Linked DNA regions of Homo sapiens. The protein of the gene in region 3 purifies or fractionates together with the protein of the main gene of each other region. This does not show direct contact. Each region holds a gene or a part of one and is shown on either strand. Other genes may lie near its edges. The genes, in order: TARS3, WDR73, ALDH3B1, IREB2, NUP155, USP32 and FMN2.

What was found.
Region 1: the proteins of ALDH3B1 (region 3) and TARS3 purify together in Homo sapiens (affinity purification with mass spectrometry; 2 studies listed by BioGRID and IntAct, with this or other methods). This does not show direct contact.
Region 2: the proteins of ALDH3B1 (region 3) and WDR73 purify together in Homo sapiens (affinity purification with mass spectrometry; 3 studies listed by BioGRID and IntAct, with this or other methods). This does not show direct contact.
Region 4: the proteins of ALDH3B1 (region 3) and IREB2 purify together in Homo sapiens (affinity purification with mass spectrometry; 2 studies listed by BioGRID and IntAct, with this or other methods). This does not show direct contact.
Region 5: the proteins of ALDH3B1 (region 3) and NUP155 purify together in Homo sapiens (co-immunoprecipitation; 3 studies listed by BioGRID and IntAct, with this or other methods). This does not show direct contact.
Region 6: the proteins of ALDH3B1 (region 3) and USP32 purify together in Homo sapiens (affinity purification with mass spectrometry; 2 studies listed by BioGRID and IntAct, with this or other methods). This does not show direct contact.
Region 7: the proteins of ALDH3B1 (region 3) and FMN2 purify together in Homo sapiens (affinity purification with mass spectrometry; 2 studies listed by BioGRID and IntAct, with this or other methods). This does not show direct contact.

What each region holds. Positions count from the first base shown.
Region 1 is NC_000015.10:101,714,148-101,718,296, forward strand, and holds part of TARS3 (threonine--tRNA ligase 2, cytoplasmic), read right to left. Parts: intron 817-4,149; coding exon 693-816; intron 1-692. UniProt on the Homo sapiens protein: Catalyzes the attachment of threonine to tRNA(Thr) in a two-step reaction: threonine is first activated by ATP to form Thr-AMP and then transferred to the acceptor end of tRNA(Thr).
Region 2 is NC_000015.10:84,638,624-84,642,022, reverse strand, and holds the end of WDR73 (integrator complex assembly factor WDR73), read left to right. Parts: 3' UTR 1-2,738; downstream 2,739-3,399. UniProt on the Homo sapiens protein: Component of a multiprotein complex required for the assembly of the RNA endonuclease module of the integrator complex. Associates with INTS9 and INTS11 in the cytoplasm, stabilizing the INTS9-INTS11 heterodimer and blocking the active site of INTS11.
Region 3 is NC_000011.10:68,019,795-68,023,943, reverse strand, and holds part of ALDH3B1 (aldehyde dehydrogenase family 3 member B1), read right to left. Parts: coding exon 4,148-4,149; intron 2,460-4,147; coding exon 2,073-2,459; intron 1,350-2,072; coding exon 1,183-1,349; intron 1-1,182. UniProt on the Homo sapiens protein: Oxidizes medium and long chain saturated and unsaturated fatty aldehydes generated in the plasma membrane into non-toxic fatty acids. May have a protective role against the cytotoxicity induced by lipid peroxidation.
Region 4 is NC_000015.10:78,440,922-78,445,070, reverse strand, and holds part of IREB2 (iron-responsive element-binding protein 2), read right to left. Parts: intron 1-4,149. UniProt on the Homo sapiens protein: RNA-binding protein that binds to iron-responsive elements (IRES), which are stem-loop structures found in the 5'-UTR of ferritin, and delta aminolevulinic acid synthase mRNAs, and in the 3'-UTR of transferrin receptor mRNA.
Region 5 is NC_000005.10:37,304,869-37,309,017, reverse strand, and holds part of NUP155 (nuclear pore complex protein Nup155), read left to right. Parts: intron 1-1,585; coding exon 1,586-1,721; intron 1,722-3,807; coding exon 3,808-3,961; intron 3,962-4,149.
Region 6 is NC_000017.11:60,182,468-60,186,616, reverse strand, and holds part of USP32 (ubiquitin carboxyl-terminal hydrolase 32), read left to right. Parts: intron 1-965; coding exon 966-1,157; intron 1,158-3,163; coding exon 3,164-3,452; intron 3,453-4,149. UniProt on the Homo sapiens protein: Deubiquitinase that can remove conjugated ubiquitin from target proteins, such as RAB7A and LAMTOR1.
Region 7 is NC_000001.11:240,329,203-240,333,351, forward strand, and holds part of FMN2 (formin-2), read left to right. Parts: intron 1-136; coding exon 137-266; intron 267-1,400; coding exon 1,401-1,547; intron 1,548-4,149. UniProt on the Homo sapiens protein: Actin-binding protein that is involved in actin cytoskeleton assembly and reorganization. Acts as an actin nucleation factor and promotes assembly of actin filaments together with SPIRE1 and SPIRE2.

The DNA.
Region 1 (4,149 bases), on a different chromosome or scaffold from region 3:
ATTAAGTATTTAAAGGATATCTGAGTCTTGTAATTTCTTCCAATTCTCCTATACATATTAAATTATAAAGTAGACCCATTTTTAATGGCCTACTAACAATTCATTTCAAACACACATTGATTTAATAACCAAAGCATTCTAACTTAAGGAAATGATTATTGTAAGAAATGATAAGGCTGGGCACAGTGGCTCACACCTGTAATCCTAGCACTATGGGAGGCTGAGGGAGGCATACTGCTCGAGCCCAGGAGTTTGAGAACAGCCTGGGCAACATAGCAAAACCCTGTCTCTACAAAAAATATGAAAAATTATCTGAGTGTGGTGGTGTGCACCTGTAGTCCCAGGTAGCTGGGAGGCTGAGGTGGGAGGATCACCTGAGCCAGGGGAGGTTGAGGCTGCAGTGAGCCGTGATTGCGCCACTGCACTCCAGTCTGGGTGACAGAGTAAGACTCCATCTCAAAAAAAAAAAAAAAAAAAAAAAAAAGAAATTATAAATATGGGCTACTTTAAAAACTGACATGTATTTGTATACATTCATGCCACAAATATTTATTAAACATCAATAATCAAATTTTAAATCTTAGAAACCCCCAAAAAACTCAACATTCGTGACTTCAATATGTGGCCTCTTATATAATGTAGTTTACAACATAACTACCCAAAGTTTGGCTGTCTGGTTTTTAAATACTCACAGCTTGAGCTTCCTCATTATCAAATGTAAGCAGCTCTAGAGAAGAGTCCCCTTCCAATGGGCGGTCCAGGTCCCACAGTTCACCATTGACTTTGGCTATTACCGTGCTTTCAGCCAGTTCCTGACTAAGAAGACAAAAGCCACTTGGGAGTTAACTTTATCACTGTTACAATGATTCCTTAAAATATTAAAAGAATTTCTAGGGTTTTTTTTTTTTGAAGTGTATAAAAAGTACAAACATAAACTAATAGGACAGATATTTCTTGTTTTGCAATATTTATTTTATGTAGAAAAGTAATATACATTCACTGTTTTTTTTTTTTTTTGAGACGGAGTCTCGCTCTGTCGCCCAGGCTGGAGTGCAGTGGCGGGATCTCGGCTCACTGCAAGCTCCGCCTCCCGGGTTCACGCCATTCTCCTGCCTCAGCCTCCCAAGTAGCTGGGACTACAGGCGCCCGCCACTACGCGCGGCTAATTTTTTGTATTTTTAGTAGAGACGGGGTTTCACCGTTTTAGCCGGGATGGTCTCGATCTCCTGACCTCGTGATCCGCCCGCCTCGGCCTCCCAAAGTGCTGGGATTACAGGCGTGAGCCACCGCGCCCAGCCACATTCACTGTTTAAAAAAAACTTGGAAAACTGAGAAAGCCCACAAGATAAAATAAAAATCACACATAAATATCATAAATCACTACTTATAACATTTTGGTACATTTCTATCCAGTGGTTTTTCTACCTCCATCCACCCCACGCACACATATGTGCTGTCTTTAAAAGCAGCTGCCGACATAATTGTATAGCTTGCATTTTCTGTCATGCCTCAGATTGCCTTCCAAAGCAGTCTGGAAGTATTGTATTTATTAATGAAGCCTCCACTGCTGCACACTGAGGTCGCCTAAGTCTTGCTATCATAGAGTATATCACACAGACATCTGTACACAGGCATCTTGCGACTTCTGTGACTGTTTTCTGGGAATACATCCACAGAATTGGAATTACTAGATCAAAGGGGATGTACCGTTGACAGATTTCTGATGTCAATTGAACGCATCACTTCCACGTACCCCGATTTTTAAAATCTTTATCAATGTGACATTGAAAATTGTTGTTTTGATTTAATTATTAGTTTTGGTTCATGCTTACAAGCTATTTTTACTTTTATGAACTATCCGCTTCCTTTGCCTATTTTCTTTTTTTTTTTGAGACAGTCTCACTTTGTTGCCAGGCTGGAGTGCAGTGGTGCAATCTTGGCTCACCGCAACCCCTGCCTTCTGGGTTCAAGCGATTCTCCTGCCTCGGCCTCCCGAGTAGCTGGGAATACAGGCGCAGGCCACCACACTCAGCTAACTTTTGTATTTTTAGTAGAGATGGGGTTTCACCATATTGGCCAGGATGGTCTTCTAGTGAGGTGTTGATCTCTTTCTTTCTGTTTTTTTGGGTATCTTTTAAATAACATTTATTGTTTGAAAATTGTTGACAAAATTACAAGTTAAGAAAGGAAACCTGGAAAGCACAGAAACACACACACAAAATCACCTATAATTCTACCACCAAGAAATTACCATTGATGTTTTGTTTATATCTTTCCATATTAATATATAGGAATAAAAAATATTTAATAGTATCATAATTATGTGATTTTATAACCTACTTCTTAAACTTCACAATAAATCACAGCATCTTCCCTAACAGGAGACAGATTTCCAAAACGTGATATTTAATAGTCACAGAGGAACCAATATTTGCTAGGCATTTTAATTATTTTTTATGGGTACTTTGGGGGACGAGTAGCAACAAAAAACAATGCTGCAATGAACATTCTTGAACATATATCTTACTCAATTATTTTCTCAGGAAAAATTCTGGAAGTACAACTGCTAGGTCAAGGGAAATGCATTTTCAGTGATTTCTGTCAGAATATATTGCAAAATTTTCCTACTAGCAGAGTTACAAGAGTATCTTGTCTCTGAGTTCTCATAATGTTAGGTACTATTAAATTGTATCAACTCTACAATGTAATTTTTTTTTTTTTTTTTTTGAGACAGGGTCTCACTCTGTCACCCAGGCTGGAGTGCAAAGGTGCAATGTCGGCTCACTGCAACCTCTACCTTCCGGGTTCAAGTGATTCTCCTGACTCAACCTCCCAAGTAGCTGGGATTACAGGCACATGCCACCATGTCCGGCTACTTTTTGTATTTGTAGTAGAGACAGGGTTTCACCCTGTTGGCCAGGCTGGTCTCAAACTCCTGACCCCAAGTGATCTGCCCACCTTCACCTCCCAAAGTGCTGGCATTACAGATGTGAGCCACCGTGCCCAGCCTACAATGTAATCTTTTAATTTACATTTCTGTGATTAACTTGAGCAGCAGTACTGCATTGAGGTTGGGGGCACACAGGTAAGAGGCCAACCTGAGTTTAAATACTGGACAATTTACTCAGCTTCTTTAGGCCTCAGTTTTCTTATCTACAAAATAGGGATTATAGGACCTTCCTCATTCATCTATACTCAGGATTACATAATGTGTACATATGATAACAAGAACTTAATAAATGTTAGATGTTATTAATCAAGTAGAACTTTCTTTTCATTTTTACTGGCTGTCATAGATGGCTAGTGTTTCGCAAACCGATTCTGCCCTTCTTCTCCAGAAGGAGTTTTCCAGCCTTCCTTGCAGCTACATGTGGCCATGTGGCCAGGTTTGGAGCCAATGGATAGAAGGAGAAGTCATGTGTAACACTTCTGTGTCTCATCATTAAAACAGTGGAGGGCACTTCTCCAACCTCTCTCCACCTTCTGTAGATGGGAACCCATGTGCTATTCTTTCTGGACCATGTAGACAACGGCAACATTGTACCAGACAAATCAGCAACAAGATGGGAGAAATCTGGGTCCCCAAAAGACCGTATGGAGACATGTCACCCAGTCAACCTGGCCACCCACGTCTAGACTGCTATATGAAAAACAGACTTTGACCATATTCAAGCGACTTGAGTTTTTTGTGATGTCTTTGTTGTAGCAGCTTAGTATATATCTTAAGTAATACAGAAATAAGGACCTGGAAGTAAAAATCCAAAACAAGTGGCACTGGCTTAACAGACTGGCAGTGAGTAACAAGGAAACAGATTCTAACATATGGAGAGCCAATAACCTTTGTGATAGTATATCAAAATATTTGATAAAACTTGCAGGCAAACCATGTGTCACAGTGCTTGTAGCACACAAGAAAGCAGGTATAAAAGGGGAGAGTAGGGCTGGGCGTGGTGGCTTACATCTGTAATCCCAACATTTTGGGAGGCTGCTGTGGGCAGACCACCTGAGGTTGGAAGTTCGAGACCAGCCTGACTAACATGGAGAAACGCCATCCTTACTAAAAATACAAAATTAGCTGGGTGTGGTGGCGCATGCCTGTAATCTCAACTACTCGGGAGGCTGAGGCAGGAGAATCGCTTGAAACCGGAG
Region 2 (3,399 bases), on a different chromosome or scaffold from region 3:
TAATTAACTGCAGTTAAAATTCAGGTCAAGCATGTGGCTCATGTCTGTAATCCCAGTACTTTGGGAGGCTGAGGTGGGAGGATAGCTTGAGTCCAGGAGGAGTTCGAGATCAGCCTGGGCACCATGGTGAACCCCTGTCTCTAAAAAAAAAGAAAGATTTTTATTTAAAAAACCTAAACAAATTCAGATAGGAATTTAAAGATAGACCAGGCACAGTGGCTCACGCCTGTAATCCCAGCACTTTGTGGGGGGCCAAGGTGGGTGGATCACTTGAGGTCAGGAGTTCAAGACCAGCCTGGCCAACATGGTGAAACCCCGTCTCTACTAAAAATATAAAAATTAGAGACGGGCATGGTGGTGGCACACCTGTAATCCCCACTACTCAGGAGGGTGAGGCAGGAGAATTGCTTGAACCTGAGAGGTAGAGGCTGCAGTGAACCGAGATTGTGCCACTGCATTCCAGCCTGGGTGACAGGGTGAGACTCCATCTCAAAAAAAATAAAATAAAGATAAAATCATAAACACTCATAATTCAGTTATACCTTTTTTCAAGTAACTAAAGTTCAAACTTACTTAGGGGAACAGGCTTTCCTGGGTGCCACCTGCTTCTCAAGTCCTGTGCTTTCCACACCACAGAATAGTAAACTGGGTGCACTGAGTGCCTGGTTCCCCTCAGCCCTTAACCAGTGCTGGCTTGTCCGAGTTTAGAATCCCAGGGCTGACTTTGTTGGTGGAATGCTAGCTCCCATTCATTTCCCACCTGCACTGGACGTTTTCTGAATCTCCTTGAAGTCCGGGAGATCTTCATTCCAAAGCTCTTCACTTTTCTGCAGCATTGTGACCCCATCTGGCTGGGGAACTGGAAGTCCTGCTCAGAGAAAAGCAGGAGGGGACATGGAGTTCTGAAATTCACTTTCTGCTCCCATGTCTGGAAGTGACAGGTGAAATGAGAATGATAGTGCCTCTCAAGAAGGTCTAGTTCCCAGAAGAGAAAGTTTAATGACTCATTTTCCCCCTTTTACTCCTTTGAGGGTACAGGATAATGCCCTTATCTATTTTCATAATAATTATAATGATGATGATAATGAAAACTAACGTTTGCCAAGTGCTAATACTGTGTCAGGATCCTCATAACAGCCCAGGGAGGTAGAAACCATCACAATGTCCACTGTCCAGATGAGAAAATGGAGGCTAAGGGTATTTAAAGAGGTTGCCCAAGAACAACAAACCTTTTAAATGGCAGACTGGTGTGTATAATCTACGCAGGGTTCACATCTATGGAACACTTTATTTTAAATTCTTTTAATAATATTATTATTTTTCAGCTGAGTCTGGGTCTCACTCTGTCGCCCAGGCTGGAATGCAGTGGCATGATCACAGCTCACTGCGGCCTCCAACTCCTGGGCTCAAGTGATTCTCCTGCCCCAGCCTCCCGAGTAGCTGGGACTACAGGCTTGCGCCACCATGCCCGGCTTATAGGGCACTTTAGATGGAAACAAATGACTGGATCTTTAACTCCTACCTTTCTCTCCTCTCTTCCTGTAATGTTGTTACTGAAGGCAGGAAGGGAGACTCCTTGGCTAAAGAGCAGAGCAAGAGCCTCAAAGTGGTCTTTGTGAGCCACCCTGGACTACTGGTTCAGTAGAGGGTTGAGTCAAGCAATATTTGAGGACGGGATATAAACAGTATTTCTTAAAGTTGTCACCAATTTTTCCCCCGATGAGGCCATTCCAGACCCAAATTAGTCATAACAGAGCCAGGACAATAATCACATCTCCTGATTCTGAGCCTGAATGCTTCCCACAGGACTGCGTCGCTCCCACTGCTCTGAGGTCCATTGTGGGGGAGAGTTGCCACTGGGATTCCACCTCAAGGCCTGGGGACCAAGCCTCCAGGATTCCTCTTGAGACTCCTCCACTATTTCATTACCATCCCGCCACATCTTCTAGTGCTATGCCCTGGTTCCCTTTGGAATCCTCTCAATCCCAAAGAAGGCCTCCTACCACCTCTAAGGCATCAAAGGTGTTAGAAAGTGCCCCAAGACTCAACAGGGCATCCATCTCATCATAGAAGACACTGGTGCCTGGTGTGTAGGTGCTCCTGGCTTTGCAGTAGTCGGTCAGGAGGTTTTTGAACCGATAGCAACATTGCTCCAGGGTCCACAGGAAGCCATGTTCTCACAGCTGCTCAGCCATAATCCGGTACACCTGGTGGTTTCGATGGCAGGTGCGGAGTTTTTCGTGGATCCAGGCCTCTGAGAATTCCCAGAAAAATCTTGGTTTCTTTGTATCCCCAGTGCACTCCTGCCACCTTCTCATCCTCCAGGGCCTGCCACTCCAGCTCGCTCCAGGTCTTGGCTTTTCTCCAGATTAGCACCTGGCCAGACTTGACTCTCACCCCAGCCACTGAGCAGTCTTTCACACTCTCTTTTTCTCCAGAATTTGAAGATCTAGATGCTGTGGGTTTTCATCCTACTCCACGTGGGAGTTCACTTTGGGCCTATGGATTGGAAAATCTGTTTGCAGGCAGACAAAAGGGAGATGTAATGGTTTGGTAAATCTAATCCCAACCATTTTATATGCCAGGGAGAGGAGATAGTAATTTTTTTTTTTTAATTCTGGGGGGATTCTTGGGAAAGCTCAGTGAAAAGAACAACTAGAAAAAAAAATTCAGGCCCAAATGCATAACTATATATCCACGTTCATCTATCTTAAATAAAATTCAGACACATACCTAAACTGACCATCTCCCTAAAATGAGCTTTCCTTTCTGGGTCAAGAAATTCATCCTTGGTGAAACTGACTATGGTATTGGATTTCCTTTGAGTAAGATTTAAGGAAGAAATAGATTTGAAATATTCAACCCAGGGGGAAAGGGTGGGAGCAGGGGGGTGAGGGATAAAAGACTACACACTGGGTACAGACTGAGGGGATAAAAGACTGCACACTGGGGCCCCGTGGTGGCTCAGGCCTGTAATCCCAGCACTTTGGGAGGCCGAGGCAGGCAGATTACTTAAGGTCAGGAGTTCAAGACCAGCCTGGCCAACATGGTGAAACCCCATCTCTGCCAAAAAAAAAAAAAAAAAATACAAAAATTAGCTGGGCGTGGTGGCACATCTCTGTAATCCCAGCGACTCAGGAGGCTGAGGCAGGAGAATCACTTGAACCCGGGAGGCAGATGTTGCAGTGAGTCAAGATCATACCACTCCACTCCAGCCTGGGTGATAGAATGAGACTCAGTCTCAAAAAAAAAAAAAAGAAAAAAACAAAGACTACACATTGGGTACAGACTTGATGGATAAAAAAGACTACCCTTGGGTGATGGGTGCACCAAAATCTCAGAAATCACCACTGAAGAACTTTTCCATGCAACCAAACACTACTTGTTCCCCAAACACTA
Region 3 (4,149 bases):
CCTCCCGAGCAGCTGGCATTACAGGTGTGCGCCACTATGCGCAACTAATCTTAAAAAAATGTTTCATAGAGACGGGGTTTTGCTATATTGCCAGCGCTGGTCTCAAACTCATGAGCTCAAGCAATCCTCCCACCTTGGCCTCCCAAAGTGCTGAGATTACAGGTGTGAGCCACCGCGCCCAGCCCTGCCATCACTTTTTTAGTTTTGACCCATCTAAGCACCATTAAATGGGGGAAATTAGGTGTGGGGTACATGGGAACTCTCTGTACCATTTTGGCAACTTTTCTGTAAATCTAAAAGTATTTCCCAATACAAAGTTTATTTAAAAAAAGTTCAAGTGGCCGGGCACGGTGGCTCATCCCTGTAATCCCAGCACTTTGGGAGGCCGAGGCAGGTGGATCACCTGAGGTCAGCAGTTCAAGACTAGCCTGACCAATGTGGCAAAACCCCATCTCTACTAAAAATACAAAGAATTAGCCGGGCATAGTGGCACACGCCTGTAATCCCAGCTACACAGGAGGTTGAGGCAGGAGAATCGCTTGAACCCGGGAGGCAGAGGTTGCAGTGAGCCAAGACTGTGCTACTGCACTCCAGCCTGGGTGACAGAGTGAGACTCTGTCTCAAAAAAAAAAAAAAAAAAGTTCAAGTGGAGGGAATCGAGGAACTGGCTGAGGGCCGGGGAAGGGGGCGGGGTGGGTAGGGACTGCTGGTACCTCTTGGTGTTTTTTAATCTGAGGACTCTGGCCTTGGGCCTCCCAGGCTGCCTCTGCAGCTTAAGCAGGGGTAGGGGATCAGGGCTCATTCTTGGACCTGCACCTTTGGGTCATCCCCGACACGTTGCCTGTGCCTTCAGAGCCAGGCTTGAGGGGTCATGTGGCCACCAGGCCCCGATGTGTAAGAAGGACAAAGGCAGGGGCTGACCTAGAGGAAACACTGGACCCTAGAGAAGGCCCATACCCCAGGAAGCTGCCCACTGAAGGCCTAGGAGAGTGGGGCCCAGACTGGGGACAGGGTTGGGGTGGGTGAGGCTCAGCTGCTTCCAGGAGAGTGGGCAGAGACAGAGCCAAGAGGTCCACCATCCCAAAGTCCTGAAGCCACTGGATTTTGGTGCCCCCCCTGCTGCCACCACTTGTGCTGCCCACTGCGGGCTCCTGACCCTGCCCAGCCCGGCCGCACCCCCACCTGGCTGCTGTTGGAGAAGGCGTACAGGGCCAGGGGCTTCTCCCGCCGGTTGATGAACTCGATGGCCTCGTCCAAGCTCTGCACGTTCACGATGGGCAGGATGGGCCCGAAGATCTCCTCCTGCATCACAGGCTCCATCTCCTGCACATCCACCAGCACCGTGGGGGCTGCAGGCACCAGAGACAGCTCAGCCCTGGGGCCACAGTCAGGACCGCCCCCAGGGTGGGGGTAGAGGTGGGGACAGGGCCACAGGCCAGGGCTCTAGGCCAGGATCCCAAGGTCTGACTTCCCAAGGCTTCAGGCTTTGGAGTGTTTAGGGAAGAAAGTCTCCCCACAGCCCCCCAGAAGGGACTCTAGAGCTTCCCCAGCCTGCTCAGGGCCTGTGGGACACAGAGAATCCCCCGACCTTGGTCTCACAGTCAGGGGTGATGGGATCTTAGAACCCTTGGAGTTCATGAGGCAACAGCGTCCCAGAATGTTGGCGCCGCAGTGTCCCATGAGCTGCTGAGCCGTACGGCCCAGGAGACTGGGGGCTCAGGACGGGACTCTCGGAGTTTAGAACCTGGGGATTGTGGGCTCGGAGAATCTGAGGTTACAGCCTTTCAGGATAGCCAGTGGTGGGATGGGAGTTCATCTTAGCACGCTGAGCCCTGGAGCCCTGGGATCTGAGCTCAGCGAATCCAAGGTGAGGGACCAGAGTTTGGCCTCATAGGGCCACAGACTTAGAAGCACAGAGACGGAATCATGGCACTGGAGCTGTGGCTCAAGGCCGGGCTCTGGCAGTGGGGCCAGGTTTCAGGCGCGGGTCCAGAGTTGTGGCCCAGCCTTGGGCCCTCCAGTGAGGAGGGGTCTTGGCCCAGGTGGGCTGTGGTAGGGGCAGCAGGACTCACCGATGTAGCGATCGCTCTCATCGCTCTGGCCCCCAATGGCCACACGGCCGCAGCCCAGCAATGCCCGCAGCCGCTGGAACTGTTTCTGGTTGATGATGCGGCCCAGGTTTGGGGAGCTCTGGGGGTCGTCGCCATAGAAACGGGTGATGGTGCTCTGCAGGGCAGGCAGCAGCCTCTCCTGCATCTCAGGGCTGCATAGGACGTAGTCGGGGGCCACGCAGGTCTGGCCGGCGTTGAAGTAGCGGAACCAGGCCACGCGGTTGGCCACGGTCTGGGGGTCGCAGTTGTCGTCCACGTAGCAAGGGTTCTTGCCCCCCAGCTCCAGGGTGACAGGTGTCAGGTGCTTGGCGGCAGCAGTCATAACAATCTTGCCCACACGAGGGCTCCCTGGGCATGGAAGGAAACCAGAGTGGCCGTTCAGTGACCTGGACCAGGCGGGATGGCCCAGCCCACGGCCCCGCTCCTCCCTGGAGAGGTGGTGGAGTCAGCGGGCAGCAGCCCTCGCCTGGCCTTTCCTTGTTCCTCACTGCCACCCTGCAGCCCAGGGCCCTGCTCATCCTTCATCAGGACCAGCCCCTAAGCACAGAGTCTCAGGAGGGAATGGTGCACGGCTGCTATCGGCCCCCAGGGTCCCCCTGCTGAGCCAAACCCCTTGGCTCCTCCCGCCTCTGCTTGTGACCCTGGCTGACCCTGCAGGGGACTCTTTGCAAAATGCTGCATGGAACCCCTCCCCACCCATCTCCTTTGGAAACTTCGGGGATCCCTTATCACCCAAGGATGGAGTCCAGCTCTGTCTACGGCATTCAGGTCTCTCTTCTCTAAACCTAAACCTGGAAGTTCTGCCACCTGCCCAGCCCTTTTTTTCTGACCCTTGAGGTGGACTGTCCCAGGCTGATGCAGGCGTCCCCATGTCCTGCCTGGCTTGGCCTCACCTCTCCTCTGTGCTGGCCTCCAGGGGCCCAGCAGTCTCCGCATGCACACAGCCTTCTCTGCCCTAGCCCTGTCTGGGCCTCAAGGCCTCCTCTCCAGACCTGACTCGGGGACCACGCTGCTGCGTCTGTGGGGATGGCCCTGGCATTTCTCCCCCTTGTGGTCAAGGATTAAAGCCGGCAGGAGCCACTGTGCCTTCTCTACTCTCACCCCTGCCCCATCCTGGCACAGTGCTTCCTGGGCTCTGTGGTTCCTTCCAGGGCTCCTTTGCCTTTGCTGGGAGGCGGCCAGGTCAATCCTGCCAGGCCCTTCCCCACGACTGCCTCGACCTGTAAGGCGCAGACTCGCCTGCCAGCACCACTGTCTTCCTCTCGCTCCCTCTGCCCCTCCCTAGCTCAAAAACTCGAAGCCGGGTGTGGTGGCTCATGCCTGTGATCCCTGCACTTTAGGAGACCAAGGCAGGAGGACTGGTTGAGGCCAAGAGTTCGAGACCAGCCTGAGCAACAGAGTGAGACCCTGTCTTTACTAAAAATACAAAAAATTAGCCGGGCGTGGTGGTACATGCCTGTCACCCCAGCTACTTGGGAAGCTGAGGCATGAGCATCACTTGAACCCAGGAGGCGCAGAGGTTGCAGTGAGCCAAGATTGTGCCAAGATTGTGCCACTGCCTGGGTGACAGAGCAAGACTCTGTCTCAAAAAAAAAGAAAAAAAAAGTGACCTCTGGCGTGGATTTCTCCAAGGGCTTGTGTGCACATTCCAGCCTGTCCCCATCCTGGCCAGCAGGGTGACCCTGGGCAGGACACTGAGGCCCAGTCCCTCATCTGCCTGCAGAGAGGGCTGTGGGCACCAGTAGGGTGGTGTCTAAGAGCCTGGGGGGCAGCAGGGTCACGTATGAGGGTCTGGGGACAGTGGGGGCAGAGGCTATGGTTCCTGACGCTGTGGTTGGCACAGTGGGCTGGCCCTGGACATGGGACTCCATCCCTTCCTAAGGGGTCCTGGGGGTCCAGGACTGCTCCCAGCCTGGTCCAGAGAGAGAGAGAGAGGAGAATTCAGTCTCCCTGTGGACTCCCAGAGTTAGGGACAGGACCCCTGAGCAGCTGTCCTCCCCGACCCCAGCCTGTCCCGACCCTCGTCCCGGCCTCACCT
Region 4 (4,149 bases), on a different chromosome or scaffold from region 3:
ATAACATACTTTCAATCCAACAATTCTATATAATGATAAGTTTGCACAAAAATGTAAGTATTAGCACATACAAAGTTTATTTATAAATAGAGAAAAGTTACTATCAGCCTCAATATTCAAAGGTCTGTTAACTAAACCACAATGCATTCATACAGGCAATATTGTGCAGCTATTAGAAGCCACAGAGAAGTACAGGTATCCCTTTCTACCTGAACTCAAGCTCCCTGACTCAGAAACCAAGTAGATTCAGATAGCAAGGGATACCTGTATTCAATGACATGGAAAGATGTTCATGATATATTAAGTGAAAAAAAGGGTTACAAAACAACATATACTTTATTTTTATTAAAAGTAGCATATTTACATATATTTTTGTATACACATAAAAATGAGACTTTCTGTACCATCTGCAATGTTCTTGTCTTTTTGTGATTCTTCTAAATGATAAAAACTCTCCTAAAAAATTAAATACAGGATTTTCTTCCAAAGGCTGCAAGGTAGGATTTGGACACTAAGTCCCGGCTCTACTGGAGGACTAAGCAGTACTGTGGTTAAAAAGGCAAGCAGACAGGAAGGACAAAAGAAAGGGTGAATAAGATGACCTGAGATAAAGGGTGCCTGGGGGCTTTACACCACCAGAGGCCCTGTTGCCCAGTAACAGGTACTCTCTCAAAACTACCTTTCACTCCAGCCAGGCCAGTCTCTCCACCATCTTCCCCTTCATTCAACATAGTCATTCATGTTTCCATTATGCTGTTCATTCTAATTCTCTGATGTTAACTGTCCTCCATCATACATGGAGACACCACTGATTTCTCCACTCCTTAAAAATAGCAATAGTTTCAAATTCAGAGATCTACTTAAGAGAGTCACCCAAATCAGCTACTTGAGAGGGTGAGGTGGGAGGATCTCCTGAGCTCAGGAGTTCAAGGCTCCAGTGAGCTATCATCATGTCAGAGCACTCCAGCCAGGTTGACAGTAAAACTCCATCTTTATAATTTTTTTTTTTAAAGAGTTACTCAAAATCTACATTTTGAGACTACCTAGATTTTGACATGTTTCTAGTCAGCACATTGGGAGTGCCAGACAGCCAGCTCCAGAATATTAAAGAGATTCCCCACAACTGGCTGCGTGCAGTGGTTCACGCCTATAATCCCAGCACTTTGGGAGGCCAAGGCAGGAGGACTGCTTGAGGTCAGGAGTTTGAGACCAGCCTTGTTAATATGGCGAAACTCCATCTCTACTAAAAATAAAAAATCAGCCGGATGTGGTGGCACACACCTGTAGTCCCAGCTACTTGGGAGGCTGAGGCACGAGAATCGTTTGAACCCTGGAGATGGAGGTGGCAATGAACCAAGATCATGCCACTGCACTCCAGCCTAGGTAACAGAGCGAGCCTCTGTCTCAAAAAAACAAAACAAAATAAAACAAAAAACAAAAAAAACCCCACAAAAAATAAAAAAACAAAGGAGATTCCCCACAAGCAAAATCATACAAGATCAAAATGTAATCAATGTCTAAGATGTGCCCACTTCCATAGAGATACCCTGAGTATAAATTTGGGAAGCAAAAGGATAAAATGGCAGTAAAAAAGCAGAAATCAAATAATCTGTGTTGAACTCTATCTAAAGTCAGAATAAGAGAAGGCATCAGGTTGGTAACGCAGATAGATTAGGCTGGTTCACTCACCACCCACTCCCAACCACTTCTCCCTTTCCTTTCTCTATTGTAAAAGATGTAAAGGTAAAATACAGTACCCCATCTTATCTATGGTTTGGCTTTCTGTGGTTTCAGTTACCTGCAGAACAGCACAATAAGATACTTTGAAAGAGAAAGACCATATTCACATAACTTTTATTACAGTACATTGTTATAACTGTTCTATTTTATTATTAGTTATTATTAATCTCTACTGTGCCTCATTTATAAATTAAGTTTTATCATAGCTATGTATGTATAGAAAAAAATATATACCAAACAGTACATACACGGTTTGGTAGTACCCATAGTCTCCGGTGTCTACTGAGGGTCTTGGAACATATCCCCCATGAGTAAGAGAAGACCTTGATTATTCCATCTTTCAGCCTTCTTGAAGCTAAGAGTGGCCACTGATACTTTGGCCAAAGAGGCAAAAGCCCCTGGAGAGGGCTTTTATCATGGTTATAAAAACTGGTAATTCTGGAATTATGTTAAGTACACATGTACTCTGTACAGTTATGTACAAATTCCCATGACAGCTTATTTCCCAGGGAAAATTTAACTTGGACATAATGCCTGGAGGTGCAACCAAAAGAATAAAAACAGAACGGGAAGAAAGGACGAGCCTAGATCCTTGCGGAGATTGGTGCTGCACAGCCCCAGTCTGCCAATCTCCACACTTCGTTATGTTAGAAAAATAAACTCGTATTTCTTAAAGTCATTGGACAGCAAGTTTTCAGTTCTTTGCAGCTGCAGGCATCCCTGACATAGTCAGCATGGAGCTTAGAACAGTGTTTCTCAACTATCTTTACTCTGTAACATTTATGAGGGATAGAATCCATTCCCTTCATTAATCGTTACTCATTACAACAGTCATTCTCAACCTAGCAGGCATCAAAATGTGGAATGGAGGTGGAGAAGACTGGCTCTGTACCTTGGTGACTACCAAAGCAATGTCTTCTTGTAAGCATATGTCTAGGAGGCAATTCAATCTGATCCTTTCAAAAATGCAATAAGGATTTTTTGTTCTAAGGTTAAACAACCAAATACTTCCTACCTAACTTGTTCCTTTCTTTCAAAGTCAATTCTTCAAATTTTATTCCTTATTAGGAAATTACTTAAGTAATTATTACTTAATAACCTCTCATAATAAGCACTCTATTAAAAAAGCAGGAGGGGCTGGGCGCAGTGGCTCACTCCTGTAATCCCAGCACTTTGAGAGGCTGAGGTGGGTGGATCACTTGAGGTCAGGAGTTTGAGATCACCCTGACCAACATGGTAAAACCACCATCTCTACAACTAGCTGGGTGTGGTGATGCACGCCTATAGTACCAGCTACTTGGGAGGTTAAGGCACGAGAATCGCTTGAACTCAGGAGGCAGAGGCAGCAGTGAGCTGAGATCACACCATTGCACTCCAGCCTGGGTGACAGAGCAAGATCCTGTCTCAAAAAAATAAGTAAAATAAAATAAAATAAAATAAAATAAAAACCAGGGTACTGACCCCACATAAAAACCAACTTTCTGTTTTGAAAGTATTTATAGTCACAGGTATTCTATTATTACATTTATCATGGTTATAAAAACTGGTAATTCTGGAATTATGTTAAGTACACATGTACTCTGTACAGTTATGTACAAATTCCCATGACAACTTATTTCCCAGGGAAAATTTAACTTTCAGATTATCAATCATTCCCTTTCAATGCATTTTACAGTTGTTTTTGACAGTTTCCTACTGATTCCTTAAATTTGAGAAATTTAGGTCATCTTCCTTCAAGTAAGCACATTTCTACAGATTATACACAGAAAGTATTTATACTCAATTTTCAAAACATCTTATGTGCTCCTTTAATTTATTAAACTATGAAATTTGGGTTAAAAGACTTCCAAGCCAGTATCACTAGATTATTTTGGAGAAGTAAATGGGAAATAAAATGACTATTCTTGTAAACGATCAATCTAGCTGTTTCTTTTCAAAATTAATGCAAACTCACCATCAGTGAAGGGATAAAATTAATGTGAAAGACATACATTAAGAAAATGACCAACTTCCTTTAACAAACGTATCAACACAAATCACTGCAGCTAAACATGCAAGGTAAAGGATATTGCTCTCATTTTGGCAAACTGTTTATTTTTAAATGACAGCCTAATTCTAAAATGGGGATTCTTTAAGATACTCCAAAATAGCTGTATTTCACAATACACAAAAAATATTGCACATAGCAGTCAAGAATATTTAAATTCCTCAAAATCTACAGAAAAATCACAAGAACAATCGTCTTAATTAAATAATGCAAGAAAAAACAAGATTAAAGCTCCTTCCAAAACTGACTGCAACAGATGTGGCATTCAATTTATCTTTTCATGTCATTGTCATGGAAAAGTTCACAAAGAATAATGAGTCTTCTAAAGAGGTCTCTCTATTGGCCCAATTGAGAAAGTTACT
Region 5 (4,149 bases), on a different chromosome or scaffold from region 3:
TCAGCATCAGAGGCCGAGTGAAAGGACGTAGGAATGTGGTATCATTGTGTTGCAATATTTGATGACTACACTGACCTGCAGAAGCTGTAATGTTCTTTCTATTTTTTGAAATGTACTTTTTTTTTTTTTTTTTTTTTTTTTTGAGAGTCTCGCTCTGTCAGCCAGGCTGGAGTGCAGTGGCACGATCTCAGCTCACTGCATCCTCTGCCTCCCAGGTTCCAGCAATTCTCCTGCCTCAGCCTCCCGGGTAGCTGGTATTACAGGCGCACGCCACCACGCCCAGCTAATTTTTTATTTTTTTATTTTTTTATTTTTTTTATTTTGAGACAGAGTCTTGCTCTGTCACCCAGGCTGAAGTGCAGTGGTGCGATCTCAGCTCACTGCAAGCTCTGCCTCCCAGGTTCACGCCATTCTGCCTCAGCCTCCCAAGTAGCTGGGACTACAGGCGCCTGCCACCATGCCCGGCTAATTTTTTTGTATTTTTAGTAGAGATGGGTTTCACCATGTTAGCCAGGATGGTCTCAATCTCCTGACCTCATGATCCACCCACCTCAGCCTCCCAAAGCGCTGGGATTACAGGTGTGAGCCACCGCGCCCGGCCATTGCCCAGCTAATTTTTGTATTTTTAGTAGAGGTGGGGTTTTACCATGTTAGCCAGGGTGGTCTCGATCTCCTGACCTCAGGTGATCCACCCATCTCAGCCTCTCAAAGTGCTAGGATTACAGACATGAGCCACTGCGCCCAGCCGAAATGTATAACTTTTTAGCATTAGAGTTTCAGTTCTTGTCCAGTTCAATTACTGTATGTTTTACATTGCTTTCTGGATTACATTTATTTTTCAGATATTTAAAATTTTTTATTGAGTTTTAAGGTATAATCTGCTTACTTTTTAAAAAATTACTTTAAATCAAATCTAACATAATGTAAAGGCCATAACTATTTGCACAGGTATTATTTTGAATCCCAAGGTATTTTTTTCCCCCCAGTAGGGAACTAAAACTTTCCTTTTTGTTATTTGAAATAGGATCTTTTTTTTCCAATGAAGAAATATATATATATATATATTTTTTTTTTTCCTTTTTCTTTTTTTTTTTGTGAGACAGAGTCTTGTTCTGTCACCCAGGCTGGAGTGCAATGGTGCAATCTCAGCTCACTACAACCTCTGCCTCGCTAGTTCAAGTGATTCTCCTGCCTCAGCCTTTTGAGTAGCTGGGATTACAGGCGCATGCCACCAGGCCCAGCTAATTTTTGTATTTTTAGTAGAGGTGGGGTTTCACCATGTTGGTCAGGCTGGTCTCGAACCCCTGACCTTGTGATCTGCCCCCTCTCAGCCTCCCAAAGTGCTGGGATTACAGGCGTGAGCCACCACACCTGGCCCCCAATGAAGAAATATATTTAACAGTTGCCTTTTAGGCATATTAAGACCTTTTCCTTCTGAAGACCTATCAGAAATATTTTATGTTAGCAGGGTGACTATTGTACAGTAGAGACATAACCTTGATCATTATTTTCATGTGCCAGCTAAGGAAAAATGTATCCAACTTAGTAGTAAGTCATAGGTCTTCATTCTTTTCTTTCCCATCAGTGAGATTTTATGAGGGTGTGGTGGAACTTTCTCTTACGGCTGCAGAGAAAAAAGATCCTCAAGGTCTTGGGCTTCATTTCTATAAACATGGAGAACCAGAAGAAGACATAGTTGGACTTCAGGCCTTCCAAGAAAGGTGCATTCCATTACGTTAGCAGATTGTCATCTTTATGGATACAGACTTTTCTTTGCATAATGTTTTTTGTTTTTTGTTTTATGTTTTTTTTTTTTTTTTGAGACAGAGTCTTGCTCTGTCACCTGGGCTGGAGTGCAGTCGTGTGATCTTGGCTCACTGCAATCTCTGCCTCCCAGGTTCAAGCTATTCTCGTGCCTCAGCCTCCCATGTAGCTGGGATTACAGGTGCACACCACCACGCCTGGCTAATTTTTGTATTTTTAGTAGAGACAGGGTTTCACCATTTTGGCCAGGCTGGTCTTGAATTCCTAACCTCAAGTGATCCACCCACCTCAGTCTTGCAAAGTGCTAGGATTATAGCCATCAGCCACCGTGTCTGGCCTCTTTGTGTAAAGGTCGACCACCCAAAGTGCTGGGATTACAGGCATGAGCCACCATGTCCAGTAGGATTTCATTTTAAAGGATAATTTTTAAGTATTCCCAAATTTGTTGAGACTGTTAAAAAGGAAATGTGTGTCCTTAAAAGAAATATAGGCCAGGCACAGTGGCTCACGCCTGTAATCCCAGCACTTTGGGAGGCTGAGGTGGGCAGATCATGAGGTCAGGAGTTCGAGACCAGCCTGGCCATCATAGTGAAACCCTGTCTCTACTAAAATACAAAAATTAGCCAGGCGTGGTGGTGCACACCCGTAATCCCAGCAACTTGGGAGGCTGAGGCAGGAGAATTGCTTTAACCCGGGAGGCAGAGGCTGCAGTGAGCTGAGATTGCACCACAGAACTCCAGCCTGGGCGTCAGAGCAGGGCTCCGTCTCGGAACAAAGAAGAAATATATAACCTTTCTATAACATATATATATGGAGGGTGTTTTGTTTTGTTTTTGTTTTTGTTTTTGAGACAAAGCTTCACTCTGTCTCCTGGGCTGGAGTCAGTGGCACCATCATAGCTCACTGTACTCTTGACCTTTTGGGCTCAAGTGATCCAGTGATCCTCCTACCTCAGCCTCCTGAGTAGCTGGGACTACAGGCACATGTCACCACACTCGGCTAATTTTTTTTTTCTCTTTAATTTCTGTAGAGACAGGGCCTCACTATATTGCCCAGGCTGGTCTTTAACTCCTGGGCTCAAGCAATCCTTTCTTCTCAGCCTCCCAAAGTGCTGAGATTAGAGGTGTCAGCCACCACATCTGGCGAAAACATATTTTTTTATTACTATATTTAATGACTTTACCCTTTTAATGTTTAACCAAACACTTCTCAAACTTATTGAAAAAGTATATGGTTTGTATTATTTTAAATGCCAAATATGTACATCTATTCTGCCAAATAGTCTTGAAATCCTTGTATATACTTAGGTAAGGTAAATCAATGGCTTTCTTTTTTGTTATTTGTTTTGTTTTGTTTTTGGGGGGTTTTGTTTTTTGTTTTTGAGACAGGGCCTCATTCTGTTGCCTGAGCTGGAGTGCAGTGGCATGATAATAGCTCACTTGCAGCCTTGAATTCCTAGGCTCAAGCGATCCTCCTGCCTCTGCCTCCCAAGTAGCTGGGATTACAGGTGCACACCGCCACGCCTGGTTAATTTTTTGTTTCGTTTTGTTTTGTTTTTTGTTCGTTTGTTTTTTGAGACAGGGTCTTGCTGTCACCCAGGATGGAGTGCAGTGGCATGATCTCAGCTCACCTCAACCTCTGCCTCCCAGGTTCAAGCAATTCTTGTGCCTCACTCACCTGAATAGCTGGCACTACAGGCATGCACCACCAAGCCCGGCTAATTTTTGTATTTTTGTCAGATACGGGGTTTCACCAGGTTGGCCAGGCTGGTCTCAAATTCGTGACCTCTGGCAGTCCCCCTGCCTTCGTCTCCCAGAGTGCTGGGATTACAGGTGTGAGGCACTGTGCCCAGCCAATTTTTTTGTATTTTTTGTAGAGACGTGGTCCCGCTCTGTTGCCCTGGCTAGTCTTGAACTCCCAGCCTCAAGCCGTCCTCCTACCTTGACTTCCCTATGGCTGGCATTACAGGCGTGAGTCACCACACTTACCATCATTTGCTTTCTAGTTAAATAATGTAATTGTTCCTTTTCCATTTTCTTTCAGATTAAACAGTTACAAATGCATTACAGACACACTTCAAGAACTGGTAAATCAAAGTAAGGCCGCTCCTCAGTCTCCCAGTGTACCCAAAAAACCTGGTCCTCCAGTGTTGTCATCTGATCCAAATATGCTGAGTAATGAAGAAGCAGGACATCATGTAAGGGACATAGTATATTTTCATTCTGAGAATACACTGTTTAGAAGTTCTCCATGGTAATGGTAGCACAGTCATCTTGGGGAAAGGTGGTAGTTCTTAGAAGTTATCATGTAAGGATTCTTGATTTCTTACTGGAGTTTATAGGGCTAAAGGGTTGTGATGCCCAGAAACAGAGCCTTTAACTGCTA
Region 6 (4,149 bases), on a different chromosome or scaffold from region 3:
CAGCAAAAGCAGCACACTCTTTTGAGCTTGCTCTTCCTTTTGTTGCCATCTCAGATAAAAAGGCCCCATGAGGGAGGAGACAGATAATTATAGACTTGGTATTCTGATAACTCTGTGTTACATGGAATCAGATGCAAATGAGTTGTACCCTGTGGGGTTTCATGCTCTGCTGTGTTGTCTTCTCATGGTGAGCTTTTCTGTGCCCTTATTTCATCCAGCTCTGGTTTCTGTGTTTCATGTTATTTCTCCTAGCCTCTGTAAAGTCTGCAGCATACTAATAATGCTCTGGCTTTCTGATTAAAAGTAAATGGCTTACTATCAGCACCCCTGGCTTGAGGGCCAGCTCACATGTAATCCCTTATAGGATTCCAAAGTTGTTAAATAAATGCAATTCTTTTTGTTTTTGTCATTTTGAAGCGTTCAAAAATTTTTCAAGAAAAGCTATGGTCATATAAATAGAAATTTTATCCAGAATGTTACCGATGTAACATTTGTGAATAAATATATAGGTGCTGTATTTGCTCAGACTCTAGTTTGGGTTGTGTTTTCTTTTCCCTTTTTTTTGAGACAGGGTCTCTCTCTGTCATCCAGGCTGGAGCGCAGTGGTGTAATCACAGTTCACTGCAACCTCTACCTCCCAGGCTCAAGCAATCCTCCTGAGTAGCTGGGACTACAGACATGTACCACAATGCCCAGCTAATTTTTAGATTTTTCTTTTACAGAGACAGGGTCTCACTCTTTTGACCAGGCTGGTTTCGAACTCCTGGACTCAAGCAATTACCCCACCTCGGCCTCCTAAAGTGCTGGGATTACAGGCATGAGCCACCATACCCAGCCAGTTGTATTTTCTTTTTCCTTATATAGAGTAAAATAAGGGTGAGTGACCAAGAGGTTGATGCATACCTAGATCACCACTTTAAATGCCTTCCCACGCACCCCTTTCCTCCTGTTCCCTCTACCTGCAGGTTGTAGATGAGCATGAGAGTGTGGAGCAGAGTCGGCGAGCGCAAGCCGAGCCCATCAACCTGGACAGCTGTCTCCGTGCTTTCACCAGTGAGGAAGAGCTAGGGGAAAATGAGATGTACTACTGTTCCAAGTGTAAGACCCACTGCTTAGCAACAAAGAAGCTGGATCTCTGGAGGCTTCCACCCATCCTGGTATGTTACAGTCCTGCCTCTGAGAGAGCAGGAATCTGGCATAAAAGAAAGAAGACATGAACAAACAGGAGGTTTTGTTATTTTTGAGAATAAGACCTTTCCTGCAGCAGTGTTTAAAACACTTTCTGTACAAGCTTTTTATGTTGAATACAGAGATGAATCTTTCTACAAATATTTTGTAGTTCTTTTTCCTAAAGAGCTTATAACCTAGAAGATCAATCATGTAGACCAGTAACTGCAATTCAGTGCAATGTGAGAACTGCCACAAGGGGTACAACGTGGTGAATTTGAACTTCAAGAGAGGTTAAACTTCTGGCTCTGTGGAGAGAGGAAGCTTAGGCTAACCCTTTGTGGACTCTAGAAGAGCAACTGAGCCTGGAGCCCCCAACACCCACTGCACATAATCATGTGGCTATGGCACACTACTGAGTTGAGTGTGTGTACACAAGCACACCAGTGCACTAGGGCCTGTGTGTTCTTTTAGATTTAATTTACTTCTGCCTTCTCCCTTCATGGATTAGGAGACTGTCCTGTTGTTTGTCAGGAGAATTTGAAGTGACAAATCTTCCTATTCATTAAGATCAGTGTAACTGTAAGGTACTGGCATATTTTAATTCAGATATTTATATGTTTTTTTTTTTTTTTTTTTTGAGACAGGGTCTCACTGTGTCACCCAGGCTGTAGTGCAGTGGTGTAATCTCAGCTCACCGCAACCTCCACCTCTCGGGCTCAAGTGATTCTCTTGCCTCAGTCTCCTGAGTAGCTGAGATTACAGGCATGCACCACTACCACCCGGCTAATTTTTGTACTTTTAGTAGATATGGGGTTTCACCATGTTGGCCAGGCTAGTCTTGAATTCCTGACCTCAGGTGATCTGCCCACCTTGGCCTCCCAAAGTGCTGGAATTACAGGCGTGAGCCACCGTGCCCAGCCATGTTTTCTTATTCTATTCATGTCTCTGTCATACTACTCTGTGAAGCTGAATGTAGGTTTTTCTTAGACCAGAACAGCTTCCCAGGGAATGATGCACAAGAAATTAATAACATTGGTTGTTAGCTAGCTCCACAGATAGGAACTAGAGGGAAGGGGCAGGCTTGGAGACAAGGTGGGTGGGGAGGAGGGGGAGACTTTTTTTTTTTTTTTTTGAGACGGAGTCTCACTCTGTCGCCCAGGCTGGAGTGCAGTGGCACCATCTCAGTTCACTGCAAGCCTCACCTCCTGGGTTCATGCCATTCTCCTGCCTCAGCCTCCTGAGTAGCTAGGACTACAGGCGCCCACCACCACGCCTGGCTAATTTTTTGTGTGTTTTTTATTTATTTATTTATTTATTTATTTTTAGTAGAGATGAGGTTTCACTGTGTTAGCCAGGATGGTCTCGATCTCCTGACCTCATGAGCCACCCGCCTTGGCCTCCCAAAGCGCGGGGTTTATAGGCGTGAGCCACTGCGCCCGGCTGACGGGTAGACCTTTTAAAAAAAATTGAGGTATAATTAGCATACAATTAAAAGCATAGATTTTTAATATCCAGTTTGATGAATTTTGACAAGTATATATTTTCATATAATCATCACATAAAACAAGCAGAGCAGTCATGTAGACCAGTAACTGCAATTCAGTGTGATGTGAGAACTGCCACAAGGGGTACAATGTGGTGAATTTGAACTTCAGGAGAGGGTGAACTTCTGGCTCTGTGGAGGGTGGAAGCTTAGGCTAAGCCTTTGTGGACTCTAGAAGAGCAACTGAGCCTGGAGGCAGTACCCACTGCGCAGTCACGTGGCTGTGCCACACTGCTGAGTTGAGTGTGTGTGCACAAGCACACCAGTGCACTGGGGCCTATGTAGAGGCCTTTATGAAACCATATTTTTGAAGTCTTTAAAAAATAATGAAGAGTAAATGTTCTGTTATATATTCCCAAACATTCACATGTATTTGACTTGTTTTTTCCATGTAAATTTTGTATCTTCAGAACCCTTTAATGCAGATGTTTTCTACCTTTACTTCTCCAGATTATTCACCTTAAGCGATTTCAATTTGTAAATGGTCGGTGGATAAAATCACAGAAAATTGTCAAATTTCCTCGGGAAAGTTTTGATCCAAGTGCTTTTTTGGTACCAAGAGACCCGGCTCTCTGCCAGCATAAACCACTCACACCCCAGGGGGATGAGCTCTCTGAGCCCAGGATTCTGGCAAGGGAGGTGAAGAAAGTGGATGCGCAGAGTTCGGCTGGGGAAGAGGACGTGCTCCTGAGCAAAAGCCCATCCTCACTCAGCGCTAACATCATCAGCAGCCCGAAAGGTGAGGCCTGGGGGCCTTATGCAGGTGCTTTCTTGGGACTCCTGTAGGCTACATATGTTTCTCTGTCTTCTGTTCTGGAACATCAGGTTGGTTGGGTGGAAAGAACCTATCTGGAATCAGACCTATCTGTATTTGAGCTATGTAAGTTTTAGCAAGAGGTTCAGCCTCCCTGAATCTATTTTCTCATCTGTAAAATGGAGATAATGCCAGGTTTACAGAGTTGAGAGTGACACATGGAGAGTAAAGCACTTCACACAGTGCCTGATATACGGTAAACAGGAATGGTAGCTGCTGTCTTGTCCCCTTATAGCAAAAGTTCTGAGGTTCCCCATCTTTCAGGGGGTCTAGAGGATCAAAACTCTTTTTTTTTTAATTTATTTTATTTTTTATTTTTTTGAGACAGGGTCTCACTCTGTCACCCAGGCTGGAGTGCAGTGGTGCAACACAGATCACAGCTCACTGCAGCCTCTACCTCCTGGGGTCAATCAATCCTCCCACCTCAGCCTCCTGAGTAGCTGGGACTACAGGCATGCACCACTGCACCTGGCTAATTTTTGTATTTTTTGTAGAGATGGTGCTTTGCCATATTTCCCAGGCTGGGCTCGAACTCCTGTGCCCAAGTGAACCTCCTGCTTCAGCCTCTTAAAGTGCTGGGATTACAGGTGTGAGCCACTGTGCCTTGCCCAAAACTATTTTC
Region 7 (4,149 bases), on a different chromosome or scaffold from region 3:
GGCTATGGGTGGGCCCGTTTTGTTTGGAAAATGCAAATGCGGTGTCTTCAGTGCATACTTGTTGTGAATGAGATGAGGATAAACATCTGTTTATGTGAATTATATTTTTCTTCTTAACTTGGCTTTATTTCCTTAGGTTCCTTTATGAACTGTCACTAATCCCCAACTTTTCAGAGCGAGTCTTTTGCATCCTGTTCCAGTCCACATTTTCAGAAAGCATTTGCTCAATTCGTCGCAAACTGGAATTACTACAGAAATTGTGTGAGGTGAGTTCTGGTCCAAAGAGAGCTGAACTTGAGTCTCATTTAATTGTGCTCAGCCATGTTCTTATTTCAGAAAAGCATTCTTTTATTTACTCTAAGTACTCACCAAATTTGAAGGATCGCAGTCCCACAGAAGGGAACATTTTATGATTGACCTTCAAGATCAAAGTAAATGTTCCGGCGGGCGCCCAGGGCTACAGGACCACATTGCTAGAATGTGGCCAATACATGTTGGCCTCCAGAGATTTCTCTGCCCTCTCCTTTTGCCAAAACAAAATCTTCAGTTTTCACGGTCCTCTCAGACATCAGACTTCCAAAGGAATGTAATTTGAAGGCTTTTTTTTTTACTTTCTTTCGTTATCTGGAAGGACCTCTCCACAAACTGTTAATAATTATTCCAGCCAAATAATTTAGGAACAGCCATATGACTCAACAGAAGACAAATATTCTTCCGAAAACAAAAAATAAATGCTTGGCAGAAACGACCAATGTTAACATTTAAAACAATTTGTCAAATATCAGTAATACCATTTGTTCTAGTTGCGGTAAATCATTTTGAAAAGTGAAAAGATGTTTTTAAAGGCTCACATTTTCAGAAGAAGTGACATGCAAAGTCAAGTTAAACACAGTGTTTTGAAAGAAATGAGTGTGAGCTCTTTGGGGGTAAACCTAAATTTAGAAATTAATCTCTGAATCTGCTTTTTGGTTTCCTCTGCTGATGCCAAACATTGGTATTGTTCCAGACGTAGGCACCATTAAGACAATGGCAGTGATATTAGTGATGTTATTTTGTAATAGTTCTCATTTGGCCTTATCTAATAGTTATCATATAGCCTTTGTTCCCATATAGCCTTAATAGTTCTCACACAGGCTTGTTTTCCTTGCAGTTACATCACAGAAATGGCCTAACATAGCATCCCCCAGCTTACAAAGGCATACCTGAATGTTTGTGGGTGGTGCAACTTTTACTAACTTTCAGGATACTGCTCTTAAAATATACCTAATAATTAGGAATGATAAAGTTCGGTTGTGACCCAAAACTCCTAATATAATATAAATAGCTGGCATCAACTCGATGATTCAAACAAAACCTGGTATAAGATAAAAGTTGTTTTTTGTTGTTATTCTGTTTTACAGACATTAAAAAATGGCCCAGGGGTTATGCAGGTTCTAGGTTTGGTTCTTGCCTTTGGCAACTACATGAATGGAGGAAATAAGACTCGAGGACAGGCAGATGGCTTTGGATTAGACATTCTTCCAAAACTGAAAGATGTCAAGAGCAGTGTAAGTATTTTGCATGAGTGGACGTAAGCACATTGAGGAGTCAAGGTTTTGTTTAGTAATGGGTTTGAATGTAAAGCAGTTGTAAAAAATATTTATGTTCCTAGGTCAAATGCTTCTTTATGTTCTGAGCTAGAAAAAAGTAATGTCCATCAGATATTTGTGATTTTGTGATTAATGTTTCCTAAAGTGAATAATTTTCATTCTTATGTCTAATGTATAATTACAACTTTTTAATATAAAAACAATACAAAATAACTTTTTATATTGTTTTAATATAAAACAATAATTTCTTTTACCATATCTTTCCCATGTCTGCTAATATTTATCCTTTTGGAATCTGAAGGCTAATTATTTTCTATGAATTAGACAGTATATCTTTTTTTCTTTGTCATGTTAAGCAATGAAGGCCAATAGGTCCATATTTTGAAAATAACACAATGATGAGTAAAATGGCTTGTAAACAAAATATAAAAGGTGATTCTACTCTGCTGCATATGATTTTCTCCTTGATACTGGTGTGTAGGGGGATGTCTAAGCTCTCTTGCAGACCTAATCATTTTTTGGTACTACTTCTGCAGTTGTGTTTGTTTGAAATTAATGTCTAAGCAATTGTGAGAGTGCCAGTAGAAATATGAGGTTAGGAATGATGGTTAGAGTCACAGACTCAAGTCTGAGACGGTAAACTTAAAAAATAAAAGAGTTACATTTCTCTGATAAAAAAATCATCACACAAAAAAGTAGGATAAAGGAAATTCTGGACATGTTTTTGAAATATTAAGTTTAATAATTGGCTTGTAGAAATAAAAATATGTAGGACTGTCCTTCCTAGATAATGAAATAATTTCCTTCATGGGGGAGAGAGAGACTTTTAAAAATCTTTTCTGCCAGCCAACAATTTGTTTATTGTTTTATATACAGATGCTTCTCAACATAAAATGGAGTTATGGCCTGATAAACCCATCCTAAGTTGAAAATACCATAAGTGAAAAGTCATTCAATACATCTAACCTAGTAAACATCAAAGCTTAGCCTAGCCTGCCTCAAACATGCTCAGAACACTTACCTCAGCCTACAGTTGGGCAAATCATCTAACACAAAGCCTATTTTATAATAAAGTGCTGAATATCTCATGTAATTTATTGAATACTGTGCTGCAAGTGAAAAACAGAATGGTTGTATGGGTACTCGCAGTACAGTTTCTACTGAATGCGTATCACTTTTGTACCATTGTAAAGTCAAAAAATTGTAAGATGAAGCATCGGGAGTCGGAGACTGTGTCTCTGTGTACGTGTGTGTGTGTTGTCAAATTAATACAGATATTCATGCAATATTCTTTCATTGAGCATCTATGGAATGTGGACACTGCTCTTCCAAAATCGAATAATTCATAGTCCTTCCTTGGTACACCAGCAGCATATGATTTTTTTATTTTTATAATTGTTCAAATGCTCATGTGTATGATACACATTTTCATAGAAGTATCTACTATAGAGAGCTGATAAATTACATTTGTTAAAAAAAAAATGCTGAAGCCGAGTGCAATAGCATGAGCCCGTAATCCCAGCTACTTGGGAGGACTTTTCAAGGCCAACCTGGGCAATACAGTGAGAGCCCTTCTCAAAAAAAAAAAGAAAGAAAAGCCCTTTTCTTAACCTATGGTAATTCTTCAATACTCAGCAACTGCTTGTTGGAGTGAAACAACTTTTGCAAATAACATTGAAATCTATAGCATCAATATCATATTTAAATTATAGAAATGAACTGGAAATAGATTCTAGTGATCATATATAAATAAGAGATTATTTGTGGGACTTTTTTGGTATCAGTTTATATATCTTATTCAATCCTCTGTTAGGTTAAATTTCATTAATTTAAATAATCAAGAGGTAATCTAAAATAAAAATTTAAATATGTAATCAAGAAATACGTTTTTAAAATAGTTTCACTTGTACTCAGAAGAGCTATACAAAGTCTTCCTGAATTGGTTCTTTCTCTGTAAAACAAATGTAACTATATTTATTCCTTAGTACTATTTATAGACCTCCATGGACAGAGCTGTTACTTTGATCACTTAGAATTTTCTCTCAGCATGCCTAGTTTTGTTAATTGATTCAGGTGCTGCCAACCGTTTCATTGAATTACAAGTTGGGAGAGAGAAAGGAAGTCAAGTTGCTTAAATCATTTTACAAGCAAATCCTGTCTAATGAGGGATATCTCTAATAGCTACATTACTGACTCATGTCAAACTTGATTATAAAGAGGTTTTGCTCTTTTTACAAATATAGAAAAAATCGTGGTTATATTAAACATTCCAGAGAATGTAGTTTGTATCATAGGGTTTGTTTTTAAAGTAAAATATATACTTGAGCTCTCAAATTCAGATTATCTACTACTACTTTGGAACAATACAAAAAAAGAGTAAAATAAAAATTAATGCGCCTAAATAAACCAGAAAGGAGGTGAAAAGGTATTTTTGAAGTGTGTTAGATATGAAACAATTTTACCTTTTTTTAAATAGAAATATCCACATTGTCTTATTTATAACCACATGAGTGTTAACTCCTCAAATCTCAATTGCTGATATAACAAATTATAATATTGG